Regions from separate parts of the Homo sapiens genome. Here all the other regions are linked to region 3. The links come from fine-mapping of genetic effects on gene expression. A gene starts in region 3. Each other region holds a variant in brackets. All regions are shown on one strand. Distances are from middle to middle.

Region 1 (8,181 bases), 88 kb after region 3:
TGAAAAGTCTATTCTAAAAGTAACGTGAATATGTGCTTGCTGGAAAATAAGTGTTAAACCACTCCTTTAATATTAGCAGTTTGACTGATGTCTACATTTTTTAGTTTTTTTGAGACGGAGTCTCTGTCACCCAGGCTGGAGTACAGTGGCACGATTGTAGCTCACCACAGCCTCAACCTCCTGGGCTCAAGTGATCCTCCCGCCTCAGCCTCCTAAGTAGCTGGGACTACAAGCCCACACCACCACGCTCAGCTAATTTTTATAATTTTTGTATTTCTTGTAGAGATGGGGTTTCACCATGTTGTCCAGATTGGTCTCGAACTCCTGGGCTCCAGCCGTCCTTTTGCCTTGGCCTCCCAAAGTGCTGGGATTCCAGGTGTGAGCCACCATGTCCAGCCATTGGCTGATGTCCAGATCTATACCTGTATACCTATATGCATGCTTAGGAAAACAAAGGCATAGTTTAAAAACCATAAGTTGTCCTGTAATTACTTTTGTTTTGTTTTGTTTTTTCTTAATGTTTCTGGAGACCTCTTTTCCGTGAATGAAGAGCTCCCTCAAATAAAGCCCAGATGTTACCTCCTTGGAGAAGATTTGATGAGCACCCAGTCTGAAATGCCACCTCCCTGTCCCTGTCCCCCCTTACCCTGTTTTATTGATTCACAATATTCTCACTCTGAATCGTACTATATTTTTATTGTTCTTTGTTCATTGGCTGTCAACCCCACTAAAATATAATCCCCATGAAGGCAGAGACTGTTTTGTTTTCTGCTCTATCCCCAGAGCTAAGAACTGGTCTTAGCACATAGTAGTTGCTCAATAAATATTTGTTGCATGAATGACTGAACCTATCTTATTATTTGAATTGTGACACATGGTAATCTCTTGTGTGGATGTATGTAATTTAGCCATTCCCCTCCTAATGGACATGGAGGTAGTTTCCAGTTTTCCACTATCACATTATATGCACCACAGTGAACACAGATGCACATCAATCCATGTGCACATATATGTGTAGGCCAACTTGAGAGAGTCAAGAAATGAAATTGTTGGAGCAAGGGATACACACCCACACCCACACACACACACACACACATATATATGCACACATGCACACACAAATACATACATATATTTATTTGTTTATGATATAAGGTCTCACTCCGTCACCCCAGGCTGGAGTGCAGTGGTGCGATCATGGGTCACTGCAGCCTCAACCTCCCGGGCTCAAGCTATCTTCCCAACTCAGCTTCCTGAGTAGCTGAGACCACAGGCACACACACCACACCTGGCTAATTAGTGTATTTTTTGTAGAGACAGGGTCTTACTATGTTACCCACACTGGTCTCAAATTCCTGGGATCAAGTGATCCACCCGCCTTGTCCTCCCAAAGTGTTGGGATTACAGGCGTCAGCCATCACGCCCCACCTGCACATTTTAAATGTTGAAGGAGCCTACCAAGTTGTCCTACAAAAAGGCAGTATGAATTAATCCTTCTACCATCAGTGAATGATCATGCTATTTATATCTTTAACCCCTGGAATTAAAGGGGATTTTGTGTATGATATGGTCAGGAGGGGCGGTCTATAATTTATTTTTTCCAAATGGATTGCTAATTGTCTCAACAGTATTTATTGAACAATCAATAATTTCCCCATGTCTTACACATTAAATTCTGTAGCAAGATTCTTCCATTTCATTGAGCTATTTGTCTTATTATGCCTTACAGTTTTAATTATGATAGCCCTGTAGTATGTTTTTATAAGACAAGTTTATCTCTACTTTCTATATCCTACCCCAAATTTTGTAAACATTTATAGAAGTGTAATATACATACAGAAAAGTCCATAAATCCAAAGCAAACAGCTCTTTTGTCAGGGTGAACATACTTACACAACCCCATTCTCATCAAAATTTTCAGCCAGGCATAGGCAGGAGGGTCACTTGAGGCCAGGAGTTCAAGACCAGCCTGGGCAACATAGTGAAACCCTGTCTCTACAAAAATTTAAGAAAAAATTAGCCAGGTGCAGTGGTGTGTGCCTGTAGTCCCAGCTACCGACGAGGCTGAGGCTGGAGGATCACTTGAGCCCAGGAGAGTGAGGCTACAGTGAGCCATGATTGCACCATTGCACTCCAGCCTGGGTGACACAGAATGAGACTCTGACTCAAAAAAATTGTTTTTCTTGGCTATGTTTATGTATTTTCTCAATCCGGTGAGATTTATTTTGTCAAGTTATATTTAAAAATCTATTTAAGGGCCAGGCATGGTGGCTCATGCCTGTAATCCCAGTACTTTGGAGGCCAAGGCAGGAGGATCACTTGAAGCCAGGAGTTTGAGACCAGCCTGGGCAACAAAGAGACCCTGTCTCTATATTTTAAAAAATTGCTTTTTAAAATCTAGGATCATGACTGACATTGCACTAAATTAATGATCTGGGAAGACAGCATCTTTAGCATCTTTACAGTATTAAGCTTTACCTCTAGACTTACCAAATTCTTTTGCTGAGGTCAGGCGCTGTGGCTCACGCCTGTAATCCCAGCACTTTGGGCGGATCACCTGAGGTCAGGAGTTTGAGACCAGCCTGGCCAACATGGAGAAACCCCGTCTCTACTAAAAATACACAAAAAAATAGCCAGGCATGGCGGCAGGCGCCTGCAATCCCAGCTACTTGGGAGGCTGAGGCAGGAGAATCACTTGAACCCGGGAGGTGGAGGTTGCAGTGAGCTGAGATAGTGCCATTGCACTCCAGCCTGGGCAACGAGAGCGAGACTCTGTCTAAAAAAAAAAAAATGCTAGTTTCCTCCTAACCTGGTACCCTCGATGCCACAGTACCTTGCAGGTGGGCTGTTCTTAATAAATACAGTCACTGAGTAACAATTCAGATTTACCATCACATGCAAACTAGCTGTAAGGGCAAACGGTTAAGGAGGATTTATGCCGCTTGTGAAATGCAACCTGCTAGATGCTGGCAGAAAACTTTCCAGGCAGGCTACATGCCATGAGACTCCTTGAGGAAGCACAGCCCTGAGTACTTTTCTCACTGCTCCAAGACACACCTTTTCTCTGCCACCACGCCCGCCCCACACAGCACCCTGCTACGACTAGATGTGGGACTGACAAATGCCACTGTTTGACTTATTTCTAGGACAATGGTGGGTGGCAGTCATGTAGGAGAGAGGTCTCTGCTGTGTAGGGAGGCTCGGAGGTAAGGAATAGGTGGGAGTAGGGTATACATCTTCCACTGTGAATTCTAGGAAGAGCAGGGCCCAGGAGAGATGATCTGCTGGTTGCACTTCTACAGCCAACAACTCCATGGCCTGGGGAAGTCACTTCACTTCCCTGCAACTTCATTTCCTTGCAGTCAGATGGAGAGACAGCACTTTGGGAGGCTGAAGCAGGTGGATCATTTGAGGTCAGGAGTTCGAGACCAGCCTGACCAACATGGGGAAACCCCTTCTCTACTAAAAATACAAACATTAGCTGTACGTGGTGGCACATGCCTGTAATCTCAGCTCACTCAGGAGGCTGAGGCAGGAGAATCGCTTGAACCCTTGAGGCAGAGGTTGCAGTGAGCCGAGATCGCACCACTGCACTCCAGCCTGGGTGACAGAGCAAGACCCTGTCTCAAAAAAAAAAAAAAAAAAAAAAGCCAAGAGGACAGGGCTCAGAGAGCTTCCAGATAGCTGAACACACGGAGGTTTGTAAGAAGGTGAACAAGAACTCATCCACGTGCTGGGAGGGTGGCATGGGGACAGGCTCAGGACCCTTCCAGACCTCACTGTGTGTGTCTCATCTGGCTGTTTAACTGCGTCCTTTAAAAGAACCTTTGTCATAAACCAGTAGACGTAAAAGTAAGTTTGCCTGAGTTCTGTGAGCTGCTTTAGCAAATAAATTAAACCCAAAGAGCGGGTTTGGAGCTGATCGGTCAGAAGTTCTGGAAGCCTGGACTTGTGACTGGTGGGAAGGAGGGGACA[G/A]TCTTGGGGACTGAGCCCTCAACCTGTGTGACCCGAGGCTATCTTCAGGTAGACAGCATCGGAGTGGAATTGGGGGATGCCCCGCTGGTGTCCACTGCTTGGTGCTTGGGGAAAAACAGACACACATTTGGTCATGGAGATGTTCTGTGGCCAGGTGCACTGGCTCACACCTATAATCCCAGCACTTTGGGAGGCTGAGGTGGGCAGATCACCTGAGATCAGGAGTTCGAGACCAGCCTGGCCAACATGGTGAAAACCCATATTGACTGAAAATACAAAAATTAGCCAGGCGTGGTGGTGGGTGCCTGTAATCCCAGCTACTCTGGCGGCTGAGGTGGGAGAATCACTTGAACCCGGAGGCGGAGGTTGCAGTGAGCTGAGATTGTGCCACTGCACTCCAGCCTGGGTGATAGAGTGAGACTATGTCTCAAAAAAAAAGTCTTTAGTGTTGATTGCTGTAGTGTGAGAGCAGAGGAAAAACAGTTGTTTTTTCCACCGTCACAGGGGCTGTATGCAGTCTCTGTCACTCAGCTATTCAACTTCTCAATTCTGCCCTCATAGCTCAAGCAGCCCCAGACAATATGTAAACAAACAGGCTTGGCTGCATTCCAATAAAACTTTATTTACAAAAACAGGTGGGTGGCCGTAATTTGCCAACCCCCGAGTTTGGCTGAAAATCAATAGAAATGTGAACGGTGACGGAGGATTACGAACAGGGAGGCAAACCAGGGGAAAAATAACAATGTGTCCTGGCTAGTTCATCGCTATGTAACACATAATAGCAATAACATGGAAGGAAATCAAACCCCCTGAGGACACAAGAGTGGCTAAACAAGCCAGGCTCTGTCAACACAGAGGAAAAGGAAGTGCCACAAAGTGACAGATTACACAGGAACAAGAAATGGCAGGGCTGTGAGTGAAGACTGCAAGTGAAGAAAGGACACACCACAAGAAGGACGCGCTCATTACAACAGAACCCTGGGCTGGGCGGCACGGTGGCTCACGCCTGTAATCCCAGCACTTTGAGATTCCGAGGTGGGAGGATCGCTTGAAGCCAGGAGTTCAAGACCAACTTGGGCAACATGGCAAGGCCCTGTCTCTACAAATATATATATATAAAATTAGCTGGGCATGATGGTGTTACGTTTGTACTTCCAACTATTCGGGAGGCTGAGGTGGGAGGATCCACCACTGCACTCTAGCCTAGGCAACAGAGTGACACCCTGTCTCAAAAACAAATAAATTTTACATTCCTTGGTCCTCGGACATGGCTAAAGAGATCTAGGGCAATAGAGACACTACATTTTTGTGTCTGTCAATCCGCCTGATGACAGAAATAGAATAGAGTCTGGGTGCAGAGGGTCATGCACGTAATCCCAGCACTTTGGGAGACTGAGGCAGAGGATCACCTGAGGTTGGGAGGTCGAGACCAGCCTGGCCAACATGGTGAAATCCCGTCTTTACTAAAAACACAAAAATTAGCTAGGTGTGGTGGCGGGCACCTCTAACCCCAGCTACTCAGGAGGCTGAGGCAGGAGAATCGCTTGAACCCGAGAGGTGGAGGTTGCAGTGAGCTGAGATCGCGACACTGCACTCCATCCTGAGCAACAGAGTGAGACTCCATCTCAAAAAAAGAAAAAAAGAAAAAAGAAAAGAAACAGAATAGAAGTAAAACAGTTTAGTACTGAAATGAACTGTTGAGAATCTTAGCTGCCCCGTCCCTCTCTAACATCATATATACTGTGAAGTGCTGTTTTCGTCTTGTTTTGTTTTGTTTGTCTTTTCTTTGTCTTTCTTCCCAACTGGGACAGGGGACAAAGGACGCTGTTTTGCTCCCTGTTCCATCTCCAGCACCTAGTCCAGAATTCGGCATACTGCAGGACAGAAGGCAAGGGGCAGATGCTCAAATATTTGCTGAGTAAATGACAATGAACCTTCTCAATCTGAAGATTCCAGATGTAGGAAGAGCCAGACACCCCCAGGCTGAACCCACTCAGAAGCTGGGTGCTCTTGGTAAAGTCACATTTCTCTTATACTGTTTTCTCATTTGGAGAAGGGAGGTGGTAAAACTTTCCACATGAAGTTATTGTGAAGAGGAAATGCAGCAACATATGTGAGTTACCAAGAACAATGCTTCACACACGACAGGTGGTCGGTCAATGGAAGCTTTCATCATGGCAGCTTCACTGCAAAGCACCGTCTATAAATCTAAAGTACTCTTGCTATTTTTGTTGTCTGTTTTTTTTTGTTTGTTTGTTTTGTTTTGTTTTTAATGAGACAAACTCTTGCTCTGTTGCCCAGGCTGGAGTACAGTGTCGCGATCTCGGCTCACTGCAGGCTCAATTTCCTGGTCTCAAGTGATCCTCCTACTTCAGCCTCCCGAGTAGCTGGGACTACAGGCATGCGCCATCACACCTGGCTAATTTTTAAGTTATTTGTAGAGACGAGGTCTCCCTATGTTGCCCAGGCTGGTCTTGAACTCCTGACCTCAAGTGAGCCCCTTGCCTCAGTCTCCCAAAGTGCTGAGATTACAGGCATGAGCCACCACATCCAATCCTAAAGCCTTAACGCCTTTTTCTTTCTTTCTTTTCTTTTTCTTTTTTTTTTTTTTTTTTTTTTTTTGAGACAGAGTCTCGCTCTGTCACCCGGACTGGAGTGCAATGGCGCGATCTCGGCTCACTGCAACCTCCACCTTCCAGGTTCAAGCGATTCTCCTGCCTCAGCCTCCTGAGTAGCTGGGATTACAAGCGCGCACCACCATGCCTGGCTAATTTTTGTATTTTTTTTTTAGTAGAGACAGGGTTTCACCATGTTGGCTAGGCTGGTCTCGAACTTCTGACCACATGATTCACCCACCTCGACCTCTCGAAGTGCTGGGATTACAGGCGTGAGCCACTGCGCCTGGCCAAAGCCTTGTTCTTAAGACCGACCTACAAGAGAAGTAACTGGGAGCCAAGATTGCCAACCTTGCTGGTGGCAAGGCCACTAACATTCCTGTTGACAGAATAATCAGTGGAACCAAATACAAAGTAATAAACCACATATTAAGATTTGTTTGCCTATCATTGAGAAATTTTTCTTTTTTCACACTTTTTGGTTTTAGATCCACTGACTAATAAAAATATAGCTGCAGTGTCATAAGTTGGTCACAGCTGGAATGTATAGTCCAGATTTCTCTCAGCAAAATAATTTTTTTTTTTTTTGAGATGAAGTCTTGCTCTGTCATCCAGGCTGGAGTGCAGTGGTGCAATCTTGGCTCACTGCCACCTCTGCCTCCCAGATTCAAGTGATTCTCCTGCCTCAGCCTTCCGAATAGCTGGGATTAAAGGTGCACACCACCACACCTGGCTGATTTTTGTACTTTTAGTAGAGATGGGGTTTTGAACTCCTGACCGCAGGTGATCTGCCTGCCTTGGCCTCCCAAAGTGCTGGGATTACAGGCGTGAGCCACTGCACCCGGCGGAACTAGCATTTGAGTTGGTGTCAGGAGCTGCCTGTCAGGCCTGGGGTGTCCCAGTGGTCAGTGACAGCATCAAGGCCGCTGCAGATATAAATACAACATAAGTAAAGACAATGGGTTTATTAGGGTAAAGTGGCTTCAAGAAAAGCCTCCTATCCCAGGTGGCCATAGAAACTCTTTTTTTTTTTTCCTTTTTGAGACGGAGTCTCGCTCTGTTGCCCAGGCTGGAGTACAATGGTGCTATCTCACCTCACTGCAACCTCTGCCTCCCAGGTTCAAGTGAGTCTCCTGCTTCAGCCTCCTGAGTAGCTGGGATTACAGGTGTGCACCACCATGCCTGGCTAATTTTTGCATTTTTACTAGAGATGAGGTTTCACCACGTTGGCCAAGCTGGTCTCGAAATCCTGATCTCAAGTGATCCACCTGCCTTGGCCTCCCAAAGTGCTGGGATTACAGGCATGAGCCACCACACCTGGCATAAATCTGTAGCCACTGTTTATTGTGCTCGCTTTACAGATGAGGAAACATGCTCAGCAAGGAAACTCTGGTCTAGTGAGAGTTTGTAAATGGCAAAGTGAAGTTGCAAAGTAGAGATGTTTCCAAGCCACATTCTCATTTCATAATCCAATAAAATTCAGAATAAATTATCAAAAGCAACCTCAAAATTTTAACTTCTTGAAAAATAGCTATTATTTCTAAATGGCCCCTGAATCAGAGGAAAATCAGAACCAACATGGAAACTTATC
Region 2 (8,181 bases), 71 kb before region 3:
GACTTAAGTCCAAAGAGGAACCATATTGAGGATGGGCGCGGTGGCTCATGCCTGTAATCCCAGCACTTTGGGAGACCAAGACAGGTGGATCACTTGAGGTCAGGAGTTCAAGACCAGCCCGGCCAACATGACAAAATCCTGTTTCTACTAAAAATTCAAAAAAGTTAGCTGGGCGTGGTGATACGTGCCCATAGTCCCAGCTACTCAGGAGGCTGAAGCAGGAGAATTGCTTGAACCCGGGAGGTGGAGGTTGCAGTGAGCTGAGATGGTGCCACTGCACTCTAGCCTGGGTGACAGCGAGACTCCATTTCAAAAACAAAAAACAAAAAAACAACAAAGAGGAACCATATTGACTCATGGAGAATAACATGTTCAGGAATATGTGGCTGCCTTCAGGTACAGCTGGATTCAGGGGTTCATAAGTTATCAGGGCTCAGTCTTTCACTCTCACAATGGTGGCTACCTTTGAGCTTCAGACCCTCTTCATACCAGCCTAGCGCAGCAGAAGCAAAACAATCCCAGCAAAAACCTGAGGGATAACTCACTGGTCCACTTGGGGCAGGTGCCCATTTCTGAGCCAATCCCTATGGGCAGAGAAATGAGGGGTGCTGATTGGCCAGCATGGAGCATTGGCCTTCCTGGAACCAAGGATAAAGTTAGTGCTGCATGCCTTTCACATGGACAGGGAGTAAAGAAGGGGGCTCCCAGAGAAATTAGGATGCTGTTATGATAGGGGAATTCATAGTGAGTAGACAAAACCAAAAGGATAGATGTAATCTAAATCCCCACTCTGCAGACAAGGAACTACTACCTTAAAAATATACAATAAAATATTTTTTATTATCTATCCCTAGGTAAGGGAAGGGCCTTGTCCCAGCTCATTCAGTTAGCAGCACCCAGCTTCCTGTCTTCACCTGGTGTCTTTTCTTCTGGAGCAGGTGGTCTCCCAATAAACAGGGTTTGTTTACCCAACACAAACACATTAGTGTCCTTCCTGTCCTAGCTTCTTCTCCCAATCCACACTCAAGGTGACTCTACTACATATATTCCTGTTTTTTGTTTTTAAGAGACAGGGTTATGCTCTATTGCCCAGGCTGGAGTGCAGTGATGTGAAGAAGCTGGGACTACAGGCATATACCACCACACCCAGCTGATTTTTTTTTTTAAACTTTCTGTAGAGTTAGGGGTCTCACTATATTGCCCAGGCTGGTCTCAAACTCCTGGCTTCAATCAATCCTCCCGCCTTGGCCTCCCAAAGTGCTGGGATTACTGGCATGAACCACCCACTGTGTCTGTCTACTTCCTGCTTTTGTTAAATTAAAAAAAAAAGAACATATTTATTTATATATATATATATATATATATATATAGACAGAGAGAGAGAGAGATGAGACAGATATAGCTATAGATAGATAGATAGATAGATAGATAGATAGATAGATAGATGTATACACATATGTTGAGATGGGGTCTTGCTCTGTCATCCAGGCTGCAGCACAATGGCGCAATCAAGGCTCACTGCAGCCTCAACCTCTCAGGCTTAAGTAATCCTCCCACCTCAGCCTCCTGAGTAGCTGGGGCTACAGGCACACGCCACCATGCCCAGCTAATTTTTTTAAAAAATTGTTTTGTAAAGGCAGGGGTCTCATTGTGTGGCCCAGGCTGGTCTCGAACTCCTGGCCTCAAGTGATCCTCTCACCTCAGCCACACCTGGCTTAAATAAATATTTAAATCCCTATTTTCAAGACAGAGAAACTGAGAGTTTAAACAAATGATGTAATGCTGGGGTTGACATGAGCCATGTGGGCATGTCGGGGAACAGTTCTTCACTGGCTATAAGTTAGTCATGTGGCTACCCCTAGCTGCAAGGAAGGCTGAGATAGGTAGTAAAGCCATGGGAAGCCATGTGCCAAGCTAAAAATCAGGTATACTCTTACTAGGAGAGAGAAGACAAGAACACAAATTAAGGGATCATTTGCAATCTTTGACCAAAACAACTGACTCTGAGATGATCCATAAAAGGTAACTGCTATTGTTGTCTCTTTTTTGAAAAACTCAGAAGGTATATTTGTTTTTGTTTGTTTGTTTCTGTTGAGACAGAATCTTGCTCTGTCACCCAGGCTGGAGTACAGTGGTGCAATCTCGGCTCACTGCAACCTCTGCCTCCGGGGTTTAAGCAATTCTCCTGTTTCAGCCTCCCAAGTAACTGGGATTACAGGCGTGTGCCACCACACCCGGCTAATTTTTGTAGTTTTAATAGAAACGGGGTTTCACCATATTGGCCAGGCTAGTCTTGAACTCCTGACCTCAACTGATCCACCCACCTCGGCCTCCCACAGTGCTGGGATTACAGTCATGAGCCACCCTGCAGGGCCTCAGAAGGTATATTTGAAAGATGCGCATAAATGCTGGGTACTGATATCGTTCTGCACTGGACTTTGGAATCAACAAAATAGAGTTTAAATTTTTATTTCATGCCTTCCTGGGCTGTATGACGTTAGGAAAGTTCCTTAACCTCTCTGAACCCTGCTTTCATCATTTGCTAAGCAAGGATAATGGTATATTACTCATCAACGGCTGGGAAAATCAAATAAGACAATGGACATAAAGTTGAAGTATAGTATTCAGTCCAAAGAGGGTGTTCAATACATGGTCATTTTATTGATAAGGAGTGTATGCTGGGTTAGAACATGAGCTTGGAGATCAGAGAGACCTGGCTTTAAATACAGACCTTCACTTCCTGGCTGAGCAAATTATTTAACCTCTCTGTGCCTCAGCCTCCCAATATTTGAAATGGAAGCAGTAACAGTTCCAGCCCACTGGGTGGCTGAAGCATGAAAGAATGGATGGCACATTTTATTTTATATTTTATTTTATTTTATTTTATTTTATTTTATTTTTTGAGAGATGGAGTCACCCTCTGTCATCCAGGCTGGAGTGCAGTGGCACGATCTCTGCTCACTGCAACCCCTGCCTCCCAGGTTCAAGCGATTCTCCTTCCTCAGCCTCCCAAGTAGCTGGGATTACAAGTGCCCACCACCATGCCCAGCTAATTTTTGTACTTTTAGTAGAGATGGGGTTTCACCATGTTGGCCAGGCTAGTCTCGAAATCCTGACTTCAAGTGATCCACCCGCCTCGGCCTCCAAAATGCCCGGCCAGATGGCACATTTAAACCAGTCAAGCAAGTATGCTTTCGCTTTATTTTGTGTTATTATTAGGTTCCTTTTTCTCTTTGAGGGCATGGAGGAAGAGACAGGGTCAAAAGGCTGTTGCTACAAACATACAAAGTTTGTAGTAAGTAAGTCTTACACAAAAGAATACGTGTTATGTGCTGCCATTTCATCAAGTTCAAAAAACGGCAAAAATCATCACTGCTGTTGGAATCAGGATAACGGTTATCGCTTAGGATGGGAAAGACTTGAAGGGAGCTTCTCCGGGGCGGGGAATGTTCTGTTCCTTGAGCTGGGGGCTGGTTACCCCGCTGTCTGCCTTTGTGAAAATGTATCGAGCCATCGCTCCCCTGTGCACTTTCCTTATTTGTGCACTTTTCTGTATGTCTGTTACACTTCAATAAAAAAGTTTTCCCCCAAAAGTCTCTGTGGTCTGTTGGAAGCTGGCAATGGCCAAGGGGCTGAGG[C/T]GCACAGGTGGGGACCCTTCCTTGCTAGCCACCGCAGTTTCTGTTTCAGCTTGAGGTACAGCAATCAACTTCCTCTTCAGATGCATGACTTGCTGCTGACCTCTAGAACCTCTGGCCACAAGGCTCCTCTTGCCCCTGTAATGTGGCCTGATTCCATTCCTTCATCTGGGTCCAGTCTGGTGCCAGCCAGCCTGACTGTCCATATTATCAGACGCCAGGACTGTGGGACAGACTTGTTTAGAAGGATATTTTGATCAGTAGCCTTGGGTGGCAGCTTCAGATCAACCTCATATTGAACTTACAAGGAGGGTTGGTGCTGTCTGTTCTTTCTTTTTTTTTTTTTTGAGACAGAGTTTCACTCTTGTTGCCCAGGCTGGAGCGCAATGGCACGATCTTGGCTCACCGCAACATCTGCCTCCCGAGTTCAAGCGATTCTCCTGTCTCAGCTTCCCAAGCTGGGATTACAGGCATGCGCCACCACGCCTGGATAATTTTCTATTTTCAGTAGAGACAGGGTTCCTCCATGTTAGTCAGGCTGGTCTTGAACTCCCAACCTCAGATGATCCGCCCACCTCGGCCTCCCAAAGTGCTGGGATTGCAGGTGTGAGCCACCGCGCCTTGCCTGTTCTTTTATTCATTAATTCAAACGACAAGTTGTAGACACCTAACATGTACATGGTTCATGGTTTGTACAAGGATACTTCATTCATGCATGCATGGATTCATTCATTCATTCATTCACATACCTGCTAGGCACTGTGCTAGGTGCTGGGAACGCATCTGTGTAGAAAACAGACAAGGTCCCTGCACTCCTGGAGCTGATTCATTAGTAGAGGGAAACGGAAAATAAATAAATAAATTGCCCAGCATGATGGTTCACTTATAATCCCAGCACTTTGGGAGGCTGAGGCGGGTGGATCGCTGGAACCCAGGAGTTTGAGATGAGCCTGGTCAGCATGGCGAAACCCCTTCTGTACAAAAAATACAAAAATTAGCCAGGTGTGATGATGTGCACTTGTGGTACCAGCTACTTGGGAGGCTAAGGTGAGAGGATTGCTTGAGTCCAGGAGACAGAGGTTACAATGAACCATGATCACACTACTGCACTCCAGCCTGGGCAACAGAGTGAGACCCTGTCTCAAAAAAATAAAAATAAACAAGTAAATGCACAGTATGTTAGATGGTATGAGTGCTACGGAGAAAATTTAAGCAGAGACACGGACAGTGAGTGCAAGACGTGTTTGGGGGCAGGTTGCAATTTTTAATAGAGTGTTCAGAAAATGACTTCCTGAGAAGATGGCATTTAAGCAAAGACTTGAGGAAGCCAAGGGAGTTGGCCATTTGAATGTATGAGGGAGGGCTGGGTGTGGTGGCTCACACCTGTAATCCTAGCCGTTTGGGAGGCTGAGGTGGAAGGAATGCTTGAGGCCAGGAGTTTGAGATGAGCCTGGGCAATATAGTGAGACTCCCATCTCTACAAAACAATAAATAAATTATTTATTTATTTATTATTTAATATATTTCATTATTTAATATATATATTATATATAAATATATATACATATATTATTTAATATTATATATAAATATATATATATTTAATATAATAAATAAATAAATTAGCCAAGCTCGTGGCACACACCTGTAATGTCAGCTACTCAGGAGGCTTAGGTGACAGAACCAGAACCTGTCTAAAAAAAAAAAAAACAGTATGTGAGGAAAGCCTGAGAAGGAGCAACCATCATTAAAACAATATTGACAGGCCAGGTGTGGCGGCTCACGCCTGTAATGCCAACACTTCGGAGGCCGAGATGGGCAGATCACTTGAGGTCAGGAGTTCAAACCCAGCCTGGCCAACATGTCAAAATCCCATTTCTACTAAAAATATAAAAATTAGTGGCTGGGTGCGGTGGCTCACACCTGTAATCCCAGCACTTTGGGAGGCTGAGGCAGGTGGATCACCTGAGATCAGGAGATCGAGACCAGCCTGGCCAACATGGTGAAACCCCATCTCTAGTAATAATACAAAAATTAGCTGGGCGTGGTGGCACATACCTGTAATCCCAGCTACTCGGGAGGCTAAGGCAGGAGAATCACTTGAACTCAGAAGGTGGAGGTTGCAGTGAGCTGAGATGATGCCACTGCACTCCAGCCTGGGAGACTGAGCAAAACTCTTGTCTCCAAAAAAATTAGCTGGTCATGATGACGGGCGTCTGTAATCCCAGCTACTTGGGAGGCTGAGACACGTGAATCACTTGAACCCTGAGGGCAGAGTTTGCAGTGAGCTGAGATCTCACCACTGCACTCCAGCCTGGGCGATAGAGCGAGGCTCCGTCTCAAAAAATAAAAATAAAAAATAAAAAAGACAGTATGGCTTTCTCCATTTGGATGCTTGCCCTTCCATCCCAGCTGCCATAGTTGGAAAGAAGCTCAGGATACGTAGAGAGGCTGTGTGTGGGGCCTCAGCCAAGCCCCAGCCAGCAGCCTGCATTAGCTGCCAGACAGTGAGACTTCAGGTAACTCTCGCTTCTAGCCTTTGAGTTTTCCAGCTGAGGCCTCAGTGCTGGCATTACAGGAGTGAGCCTTAGAGCAGATAGAATTTTTCCCCACTATGCCCTTCCTGAATTCCTATCCTACAGAAATTTGGGGTACTCTGTTAAACAAACCCCAAATGAGGAACATTCTATGAAATAACTGGCCTGTATTCTTCAAAAAATGTCAAGGTCATAAAAGACAAAGAAAAGCAGAGGCATCATTTCAGATGAGAGACAATTAGGCCAGGCGCGGTGACTCAAGCCTGTAATCCCAGCACTTTGGGAGGCTGAGGTGGGTGGATCACTTGAGGTCAGGAGTTTGTGACCAGCCTGATCAACAAGGCGAAATCCCATCTCTACTAAAAATACAAAAATTAGCAGGGCGTGGTGGCAGGCGCCTGCAGTCCTAGCTACTCGGGAGGCTGCGACAGGAGAATTGCTTGAACCCAGGAGGTGGAGGTTGCAGTGAGCCAGGATTGTGCCACTGCACTCCAGCCTGGGTGACGGAGCAAGACTCCGTCTCAAGAAAAAAAAAATAAAAAAGACAGACAAAACATGGTCCTGAAGTGGATCCTGCACTAGGCGGGAAAAAGCTGTAAGGGATTCTTTTTTTTTTTTTTTTTTTTTTTACCACAACTGACAAAATTGGCGTATGGATGGTAATCAAGGTAAATTTTTTAGTAACACTGCTGTGATTACAGAAAATAATATCTATTTTCTTTTATGTTATTTTTGAGACAGAGTCTCACTCTGTTGCCCAGGCTGGAGTGCAGTGGTGCAGTCTCAGCTCACTGCAACCTCTACCTCCTGAGTTCAAGCGATTCTCTTGCCTCAGCCTCCCAAGTAGCTGGGGTTACAGGTGTGCACCACCACACCCGGCTAGTTTTGTATTTTTAGTAGAGACAGGGTTTCGCCATGTTGGTCAGGCTGGTCTCAAACTCCTGACCTCAGGTGATCCACCCGCCTCAGCCTCCCAAAGTGCTGGGATCACAGGAGTGAGCCACTGCACCCAGCCTATAGCAAATAATATCTTGTTCTTAGGAAATACATGCTGAAATATTATGAGGTAAATGGGGCATCAAGGTAAATTTTCTGAATTTGGTAACAGTGCTGTGGTTACAGCAAATAATATCGTGTTCCTAGTAAACATATGCGGAAATATTAAGAGGTAAATGCGGCATGATGTATGAAAACTATAATAGTTCAGAAAAATAATAATAATAAACATAGTCACATGAAGAAAGAAAAGATAATAAAACAAACATGGCAAAATAGTAAAGACAGGTGATTCTGGGTAAAGGGTATATGGAATTCTCTGAATTATTCTTGTTATAGTCCTATAAATTCAAAACCGTTTTGAAACCTGTAATCCTGATTATATCTCTGAAAGGGAAGTGGGTGGGTAAAGGAACAGGGAGGAAGGGAGACCCACCCATTTTTCACTCTTTACTTTCACTCTGTACTTTTTGAAGGTATTCATGTAGTCAAATAAACAAGTAAAAAAAAGGGAAAATAAAAGTTCACTTATTAGACACAGATTCTAGGCACTGTGCTGAGCCAGTCAATACTTGAGATGATTCTCATTTATTCCCCTCTACTCTGCCCATTGCATGGAGGAGGAAACTGAGGCTTAGAGAAAGAAAGTGATTTGCCCAAGGCAGAACCCAGAGCCAGAAATTAACCCAGGTCAGTCCACTACAAAGGCCTCAACACTCAGTTGGGCAGGGTCTTTGCCTTTAAGGAGAGATTCCTTGAAACCCTCTTCACTGTTTAAAGAAAAAATAACAGGCTGGGCGCGGTGGCTCACGCCTGTAATCCCAGCACTTTGGGAGGCCGAGGAGGGCAGATCATGAGGTCAGGAGATTGAGACCATCCTGGCTAACACGGTGAAACCCCGTCTCTACTAAAAATACAAAAAATTAGGTGAGTGTGGTGGCAGGCGCCTGTAGTCCCAGCTACTCGGGAGGCTGAGGCAGGAGAATGTTGTGAACCCGGGAGGTGGAGCTTGC
Region 3 (8,146 bases):
CGGCTTTTTTTATTTTTATTTTTTTTCTTGAGACGGAGTTTTGTTCTTTATTGCCCAGGCTGGAGTCCAGTGGCACGATCTCAGCTCACTACAACCTCCGCCTCCTGGGTTCAAGTGATTCTCCTGTCTCAGTCTCCCGAGTAGCTGGGATTACAGGTGCCCACCACCACACCTGGCTAATTTTTGTATTTTTAGTAGAGACGGGGTTTCACCATGTTGGCCAGGCTGGTCTCAAACTCTTGACCTCAGGTGACCTGCCCATCTCAGCCTTCCAAAGTGCTGGGATTACAGGCATGAGCCACCATGCCCTGCCGGATTGTTTTCTTTATGTGTGTGATTTCAGCTAGCCTGCAATTGGGTGTTGACAAGCACAAGAGGCCCAACCTGTGCTCTCCTGAGATTTCACCAAGGACCTCCCTTTCTTTAGGCCACTCCCCTGCGCTAAAACCTTCAAGGGCTCTCTATGGCTCAGAGGAAAAAGTTAAGAATAGTGATGGCTCCCATGGATTGAGCACTTCCTACATATCAGGCCCTTTATAGAGATACTATTTGTAATCTGTGCACAATCCTAGAAAGAAGGAACTGTCTGATCTCCATTTTACAGATGCGGAAATGGAGGTTCCGAGAGGTGAAGTGACTTGCCAAGATGACAGAGTGAGGGCAGGGAGGAAGGAAGACTGGCAGCCAGATCCATCTAATTCCAGGGCCCATGCTGAGCCACAGGGTCAGGCCTCACTCCTCCAGCCTCACCCCTCACCTCTTTCTTTTCCTTGGCAGGACTAGCTGCTCCAACCAGGCAGGCCTCTTCTCACTGCCCCTTGAGCAAACCTGTCTCAATGTCCCTTCAAAGACCATCTAGAATCTCACAGAACACCTTTTCCTACTGCCAGCCATGCTGAGTCCTGCCCTTATGACAGTGTCCCTCAGTTAGTCACTTTCCTGTAGCTCATATGTCACTAGGCTGCAAGAATGTCTTAGTCATCTTTGCATCTGCCATGCCCAGCACACAGTCACTGCACACCTGTCGTCCTTCAACAATTATTCAGCGCCTACTGGCTGCTGAGCACTGTGCTAGGTGCAAGGATACAGCAGAGAGTGAAACCAAATCCCTGCTCTCGTGAAGTTTACATTCTGATCTGGGAGAAGAAAATGAACAAGTAAACGCGTATATGTATAGTAGAATGTCAGGGGATAAAAAGTGCTATGGAGAAAAATCAAGCTGAGGAAGGCTATGGATAGAGAGTGCTGGGATGGGGAGAAGAAAGCTACTTTAGAGGAAAGGTCTTTTTGAGACGGTAACATTTGAGCAGAGATTAGAATACAGTGAGTTTGTCTGAGGAGCTGAATAGTCAAATGAATATATAATGAATACATGCTTTAGTGAGTTGGAAACCTAACTTGGAGATGAAAAAGTAGTGTGGAGGAAGGAGTTTGAGGTAGGGATCCCTGGATACTCCTGACATACTTCTTTTTCTTCCATTTAAAAACATAAACTGCCGGAGGCGGTGGCTCATGCCTGTAATCCCAGCACTTTGGGAGGTCGAGGCAGGCAGATTACCTGAGGTCAGGAGTTCGAGACCAGTCTGACCAACATGGTGAAACCCTGTCTCTACTAAAAATGCAAAATTAGCCGGGCATGGTGGCGTATGCCTGTAATCCCAGCTACTTGGGAGGCTGAGGCAGGAGAATCTCTTGAACCTGGAAGGCGAAGGTTGCGGTGAGCAGACAATGTGCCATTGCACTGCAGCCTGGGCAACAAGAGCGAAACTCCACTGAAACAAACAAACAGACAAAAACCATAACCAGTTTATTTATTTATTTTTGAGACGGAGTCTTGCTCTGTCGCCCAGGCTGGAGTGCAGTGGTATGATCTCAGCTCATTGCAACCTCCACCTCCAGAGTTCAAGCGATTCTTGTGCCTCAGCCTCCCAAATAGCTGGGATTACAGGCTGCCTGACACCGTGCCTGGCTAATTTTTGTATTTTGCATTTTTTTTTTGAGGTGGAGTCTCACTCTGTTGTCCAGGCTGGAGTGCAATGGCACGATTTTGGCTCACTGCAACCTCTGCCTCTGCCTCCCAGGTTCAAGCAATCCTCCTGCCTCAGCCTCCCGAGTAGCTGGGATTACAGGCACGTGCCACCACGCCCAGCTAATTTTTGTATGTTTTAGTAGAGATGGGGTTTCATGTTGTTGGCCAGGCTGGTCTCAAACTCTTCACCTCAAGTGATCTGCCTGCCTCGGCCTCCCAAAGTGGTGGGGTTACAGGCGTGAGCCACTGTACCCGGCCTAAAACATAACCAATTTATTTTGATGCCTTGTTATTTCAGATAGGTCAGAAATAGAGACTGATCATTGGTACATAGTTTAAATGTAGGAAGGTTTCTCTTTCTCTGTCTATCCAGAACAGACTGGATGTTACAGAATGTTATGGTATAATTGTTAATTCTCTTAGTATTACTGTGGTTTTGAAGGATAATGTAATTTTCCTTAGGATTTGCTACTGAAGTATTAAGGCATGAAGTACTAGTAAGGCAACAACTTACTTTTTTTTATTGTTTTTTTGAGTCAGGGTCTCACTCTGTCTCCCAGGCTGGAGTGCAGTGGCGCTATCTTGGCTCACTGCAACCTCCACCTCCTGGGCTTAAGAGATCCTCCCACCTCAGCCTCCCAAGTAGCTGGGACTATAGGCACACGTCATCACGCCCAGCTAATTCTTTTGTATTTTTTGTGGAAATGGAGTTTTGCCATGTTGGCCAGACTGATCTCAAACTCCTGAGCTCAAGCGATCCATCTGCCTTTGCCTCCCAAAGTGCTGGGATTACAGGTGTAATCGCCCAGCCTACCTTTAAATATTTAGCAAAAAATAAAAATTTTCAACATATGAATATAGATACATACATGTGGAAAAATGATAACAATGATCAAATCCAGGTGGGGAGTGTACAGATGTTTCTTGTACTATTCTTTCAACTTTTCTGTATGTTTGAAAATGTTTCATAGATACGAGGGTTGGGAGGGGCCATTGTGTGGGCCAACAAAAACTATTTGCAAGTTAGATGATTCCGGCTAGTCTGGGATTTCTGGTCCAGGGCCTTACCTGCACTATTTCATCGAATCCACATCACATCCCCGTGGGGTGGGCAGCACTGGGTCCGATTCACAGGTGATGAATAGAGAAGCTCAGAGAGGTAAGTGACTTTCCCAGAGTCACACAGCCAGGAGATGCCAAGCCGAGATTTGAACTCACATCTATCTGAGTCAAAATTCTCTGCTTTCCTTTTTGATCGTTTAAGCCTCTTCTCTTCCACCATACCATTCTCCAGGGGTATTGAATTAGGTGACAGCTAAGCACTCTTACTATGTGCACTTTGCATGTATTACTTAAATCCTCGCAACAACCTGATGAGGTTGCTAATAACCTCCTCCATTTTACCGAGGCACAGAGAGTTTAACTTGCGTGAGGTCACACAGCTAACAATGGAAAAGCTGGGAGTCAGAGAACCTGGGCAGTGTGGCTCTAGACTCCCCACTTAAAGGATCAAAGAAACACTGTAAAAAGTAGAAATCACTTTAGGAATATAAATCAGAATTATTGTTGATTCTCACAGAATCCCTGCAAAGTCCTCTCCCCTCCCCACTGCTTCTGGCATTCCAAGACAGTACCCTAGTTTCAGATATGTCTACACAGGGACACTGGCCTCCTCAGTCCAGCTCCTTGAGGCTACTGCTTCTTGCCATAAATTTCTAGGACTGTTCATTGCCTTCTGAGGTCCTTTGAGCTGATGCTGATCTGAAAGCATTTTTTTGGATATGGTCCCATACCCAGGTGATGGGGATAGGATACCGATTTGCCTGCAGGATAAGAATTAGAGGTCATACAGACTGCTGAGACAGTTACAACCTAGAGGTCAAGGGCCTGACATGGGAGACAGGCCAGTTTTGATTTAAGCCCTTACTGCAAGGCTTGGGTGAATTGCCTTTCCATCTAGAAACCTCAGTTTCCTCATTTGTATGATAGTAATAATAACAGCACACATCTCAAGACTGGTGGGGGAATTTCATGGCATGAGTGAAGTCCATGTTTCTCAGCAGAAGTCTAGAGACATTGACAATTGTTATCATTATGCTATTTCTGATACAGTAGGATCCCTGACTACAGCTCCAAGCTCATCCCTATTTCCCCCCCTACTTCACTGGATTTTATCCATGTTGGCCTTGGATTCAACTCGGGGGCAGATCAGCCCTTTTCCTACCTCAGGGCCTTTACACCTGCTGTTCCCCCTGGTATGACTGCTTTTTCCCCAGCTTATTCAAAAAAGCTGGCGCTTTCTCACCCTTTTATATCTCAGTTCGTGTCACTGCTCAGTGAGGCCTTCCTTGACCACTCCAGCCTGCCTGCAATACATCCTCCTGTTTTATCGTATTCATATGTGTTACCAGTACCTGATATTACTAGCTGATTTGTTTCTTTTATCTCTCACATAATGTAAGTTTCAAGTAGACAGAGATTTTTATCGTTTTTTTTCTCTGTAGCATGCCCAGCGCCAACAACTGTGTCTGGCATTCAATAAATAAATGGTGAATTGAATGAATGAATGAATGAATGAATGAGGGTGTATACCAGGCCGAACCCCCAAGCCTTGCAGTCCCCACTCTTCTGCTGCAGTGGGCAACGAGATGAGTCAGACTTTGTAGATGGCCCCTTGGCCCCCGAGATGGGGGACGAGCTAGCGCGGAGCACTTGGGAGACATTCCCCGAAAGCCTGGGCGGTGGCCGCACTGGGAGAGGGTCTGTCGCCATTTGGCGATTACTCCATGCGGGCTGCTGTGGGCGCCGAGCGAGGGTCGGCGGCGAGCGCAAGCGCGCGGGTCTTTTGCGACGGTGCCCGGCGGCACTGGCCCCGCCTCCCGCGCGTGCGCCCCGCCTCCGCCCCCGCCGCTGCGCCCGCTCGGGGCCGCTCTGGCCCCCGCCCGCTTCATGTGGCCCGGCCCGCGACGGCCGGCGGCTGGGAGCGGCGAGGCGGCGGCGGCGGCGAGTGGCGGCCCGCGAGGCCCGGGAGGCGGTGGCCGAGGCCCAGGCGGTGGCGGCGGCGGCCCAGGAGGCGGCGGACGGGGAGCTGCGGGAGCAGGCCCGGCCTGGCTCTCTAGCGGCCGCCTGGCTGCAGCATGCGCGCCCGCCGGGGGCTGCTGCGGCTGCCGCGCCGCTCGCTGCTCGCCGCGCTCTTCTTCTTTTCTCTCTCGTCCTCGCTGCTGTACTTCGTCTATGTGGCGCCCGGCATAGGTAGGAAGGGGGCTTGGGACCGCGGCGGCTGCCGCTCTGGCCTTGAGGGACCCGGGGAATCCCCGCCCCTCCCTAAGGGGCCCCGGCCGGGAGGCGGCCCTGAGCCTGGTCCTCCGAAGACTCCGGAGTCCTGGCCCGGCTCTCGGGGACGCCAGGACATTCCTGCCCTCCGCACCCCAACAGGCGCCCGGGATCCCTCTCCCGCGCCAGCCTCCGGCCCACCCCGCCCCTCCTAACGCCACCCTCGCGAACCCGACTGTACCTTCACGCCCGCCCCTTGCTCCGGAACCCCCTTCCCGCTCTTGCCTCGCTGGAACTCCCACTTCCCGCTCCTCTGCTCGAGAACTCCCGCTTCCCCTTCCCTTCCCCGGGGTCTCCTCGAACCCCCATTCCCGGCATTCCCCGCACCCCAGTCCCCCGCGGCGCGCCCGCTCTTCGCCGAGCCCATGTGCCCGGGTCCCAGGCCGCCCCACCTTCTAGCTCCCATCCATCCTCCCCCACTCCCCATGACTCCATCGTTTCCTGCTCCCGTGAGCCCCCTCCCTCCCCTTTCTTCCTCTACTTCCCCTATTACATCCACCTCCAGGTCCTCCTCCCTAACTCACGTTCACCTCTTCAGTGGCCTGATCTCTCTGCCTGCCGGTGGCACCCCCCTTCCCCTTACAGAGGTCCACCCCCATTCAATCTCCTGCTAATCCCCTGAGCGTCCCATGCCTCTTCCCCATCTCCCCCCCCCCCACCTCGCGTACCCACAAGGGCACATCCTTGTCACCTTTGCCCCCAGCCCCCCAGACTTTCAGCCACAGCTTCTTTCTCAACTGAAGACCTGGGGAAGGGGTGCTGTCTGTGTTCTTTCTTCCACTTCTGCCCTCTCCTAGCCTTGAGGGTAGATGGTGTGGTTCTTCAGTATTGGATAGTGCCTGCTCTGCGGACAAAGGAGAAGTTTAAATTGTCCGTAGAGAAGGGGATATGATTGGGGCCTTTGGGAAATGGTACCAGGTGAGAAGGGGGAGCATGGAGGAAAGATGTAATGGGTACTCCTTCTTTTCAAAGTCTTATCCTTTAAAGGAAAGGCGGTCTCTGGAGAAACTGACCCTCCCACCCCTCCCCCGCCTGCCCCAAGCATAGTCTTTTATAAGACCACAGGGCACCAGTTAGGACAGGAAGAGATCAGAAGGAAAGACAGCATGAAGGTTAAGAGCGGAGGACACAGAGGTCAGACTTGGATTCCAATCTCTGCCCTGTATGACCTTGGGCAGGTTACTAAGCCTTTGCATTTCTCCTCTGTAAAATGGGAATGTGAGTCCCAATCTCATACAGTGTTAAGGATGGAAGTAGATACATGTTCTTTAAAAGCACTTACCACTGTACCTGGTGCTTGAAGAGTTTTAAAAATAAGTAAATAAAGGCAGCTATTACATGTAACTTCCAGGAAGAAGGGAGTTAGGTGGAACGCTTAAGGAATGTGTTTGCCTGACTTGGCATCACTATGAGGAAACCTCAGTTTATGGTGAAAAATGATCAGAAGATGCTGCTGGGGTAGGGGCAGGGAGAGTAAATTCTGCTAGAAAAATTTTGGATTATATGGATTTTAGGAAAGGGTTGATGGTTTAGCTGTAGGGAAATGCCTTTTAGGATTGTAGCAATAACTAGTGCCATTCTCTGTTGACCTGTCAACGCAGAACTAGCTGAATAGAGAAATTTCCAGATAGAGCAGGAGATCGTCTCCTGATTATTTTTTAAGCATATTTTACTTGTGGTTAATGTTGATGTTTTGAACTATCAACTAGATCTGGGAAGATAGAACAGGCAGCATCAGATTGCCTTGTTTACAAAGTGTCATCACGAAAAGTGTTCCTCTAGGAAGGCATAATATGTGGCCTGATGGATTTGATGAGTAGATTGTAAAAGGGTTGGGATTCTGGCAGAACAAGAAGAGATAACTAATTAGTGGAATTAACTGAGAAAAGAGTTCATTAGCATGTTGGCTATTAGACTCTAATAAAAATGGGTGTGAAAAGATGGGATTTGGACCTAGAGGCAGTCTTAGAGCCATAATCCTTTTTTTCTCCTTTTGTGAAAGTGACAGGTACTTCTGGTCTGAGTCCATAAATCAGCTATATCTAAATGGAAAACTATATCCCACTGGGATGGTAATCACCCTTTTGATAGAAAGGTTAGAAGCCAGATTCTTCAACAGAAATGGAACTTATCAATTTAATTAAGATTCCTCAACAGTAGATTTTTAGGTCAGTGGAACCCCTGTGTAAAGCGATGTGCTACTGCCATGCCTAGAATCCTATATCACTGATAGCTGAAAAAGAGGCAGAGCACTTACATTTTCATTAGTACTGTATCCCCTTGAATGTAAGCCTTCTGAAGGGGAATTCTACTTAGGATGGAAATTTTGTTCGTGAGAAAGGGGAACAATAAAAAAAGGATGTGGAGTAGTTACATTTAGCTGTTTGCCCTTCCTACTAATTTTTTTTTTTTTTTTTTGATAGAGAGTCTCTGTTGCCCAGGCTGTCGTGCAGTGATGCTCATAGCTTACTGCAGCCTTGATCTCCTGGGCACAAGGGATCCTCCTCCCTCAGCCTCCTGAGTAGCTGGGACTCCAGGTACATGCCACCCTGCCTGGCTAACTTTTAAAACAGTTTTTTGTAGAGACAGGATCTCACTATGATGCACAGGCTCTGTTGAACTTAAATTTTTAGAATGTCTAGCTTTGGACAGTGGGGCGGCAAATTTTTTCAAGGTTAAGGCAATCTGGAGAAATAGAAGGTTGTTTTGTGTTCCTTGGGTTATGAAGACCTTATTTGAATAGTTATTAAAATGAGCTTAGAAAATAATACTAGGTTGGCTGGG

The links. PIP is the estimated chance that this variant, and not a neighbour inherited with it, causes the effect.
Region 1: its variant is fine-mapped to the expression of B4GALT5 in whole blood (TOPMed, PIP 0.90).
Region 2: its variant is fine-mapped to the expression of B4GALT5 in whole blood (TOPMed, PIP above 0.99).

What each region holds. Positions count from the first base shown.
Region 1 is chr20:49,622,442-49,630,622 of GRCh38, reverse strand. LOC124904926 (a long non-coding RNA gene) reads left to right here. Exons shown (of 2, transcript XR_007067638.1): 2 at 1-839. Among named protein-coding and RNA genes, the nearest start is that of PTGIS, 58 kb to the right of the region's middle. RefSeq lists enhancers at 1-12, 3,331-3,400. The variant G/A (reference allele first, on the strand shown) is at 3,976.
Region 2 is chr20:49,781,488-49,789,668 of GRCh38, reverse strand. No RefSeq gene overlaps it. Among named protein-coding and RNA genes, the nearest start is that of SLC9A8, 27 kb to the left of the region's middle. RefSeq lists enhancers at 3,747-3,986, 5,513-6,036. The variant C/T (reference allele first, on the strand shown) is at 3,639.
Region 3 is chr20:49,710,711-49,718,856 of GRCh38, reverse strand. B4GALT5 (beta-1,4-galactosyltransferase 5) reads left to right here and starts at 4,979. Exons shown (of 9, transcript NM_004776.4): 1 at 4,979-5,281. The coding sequence starts at 5,167. RefSeq lists silencers at 4,767-5,096, 5,387-5,506.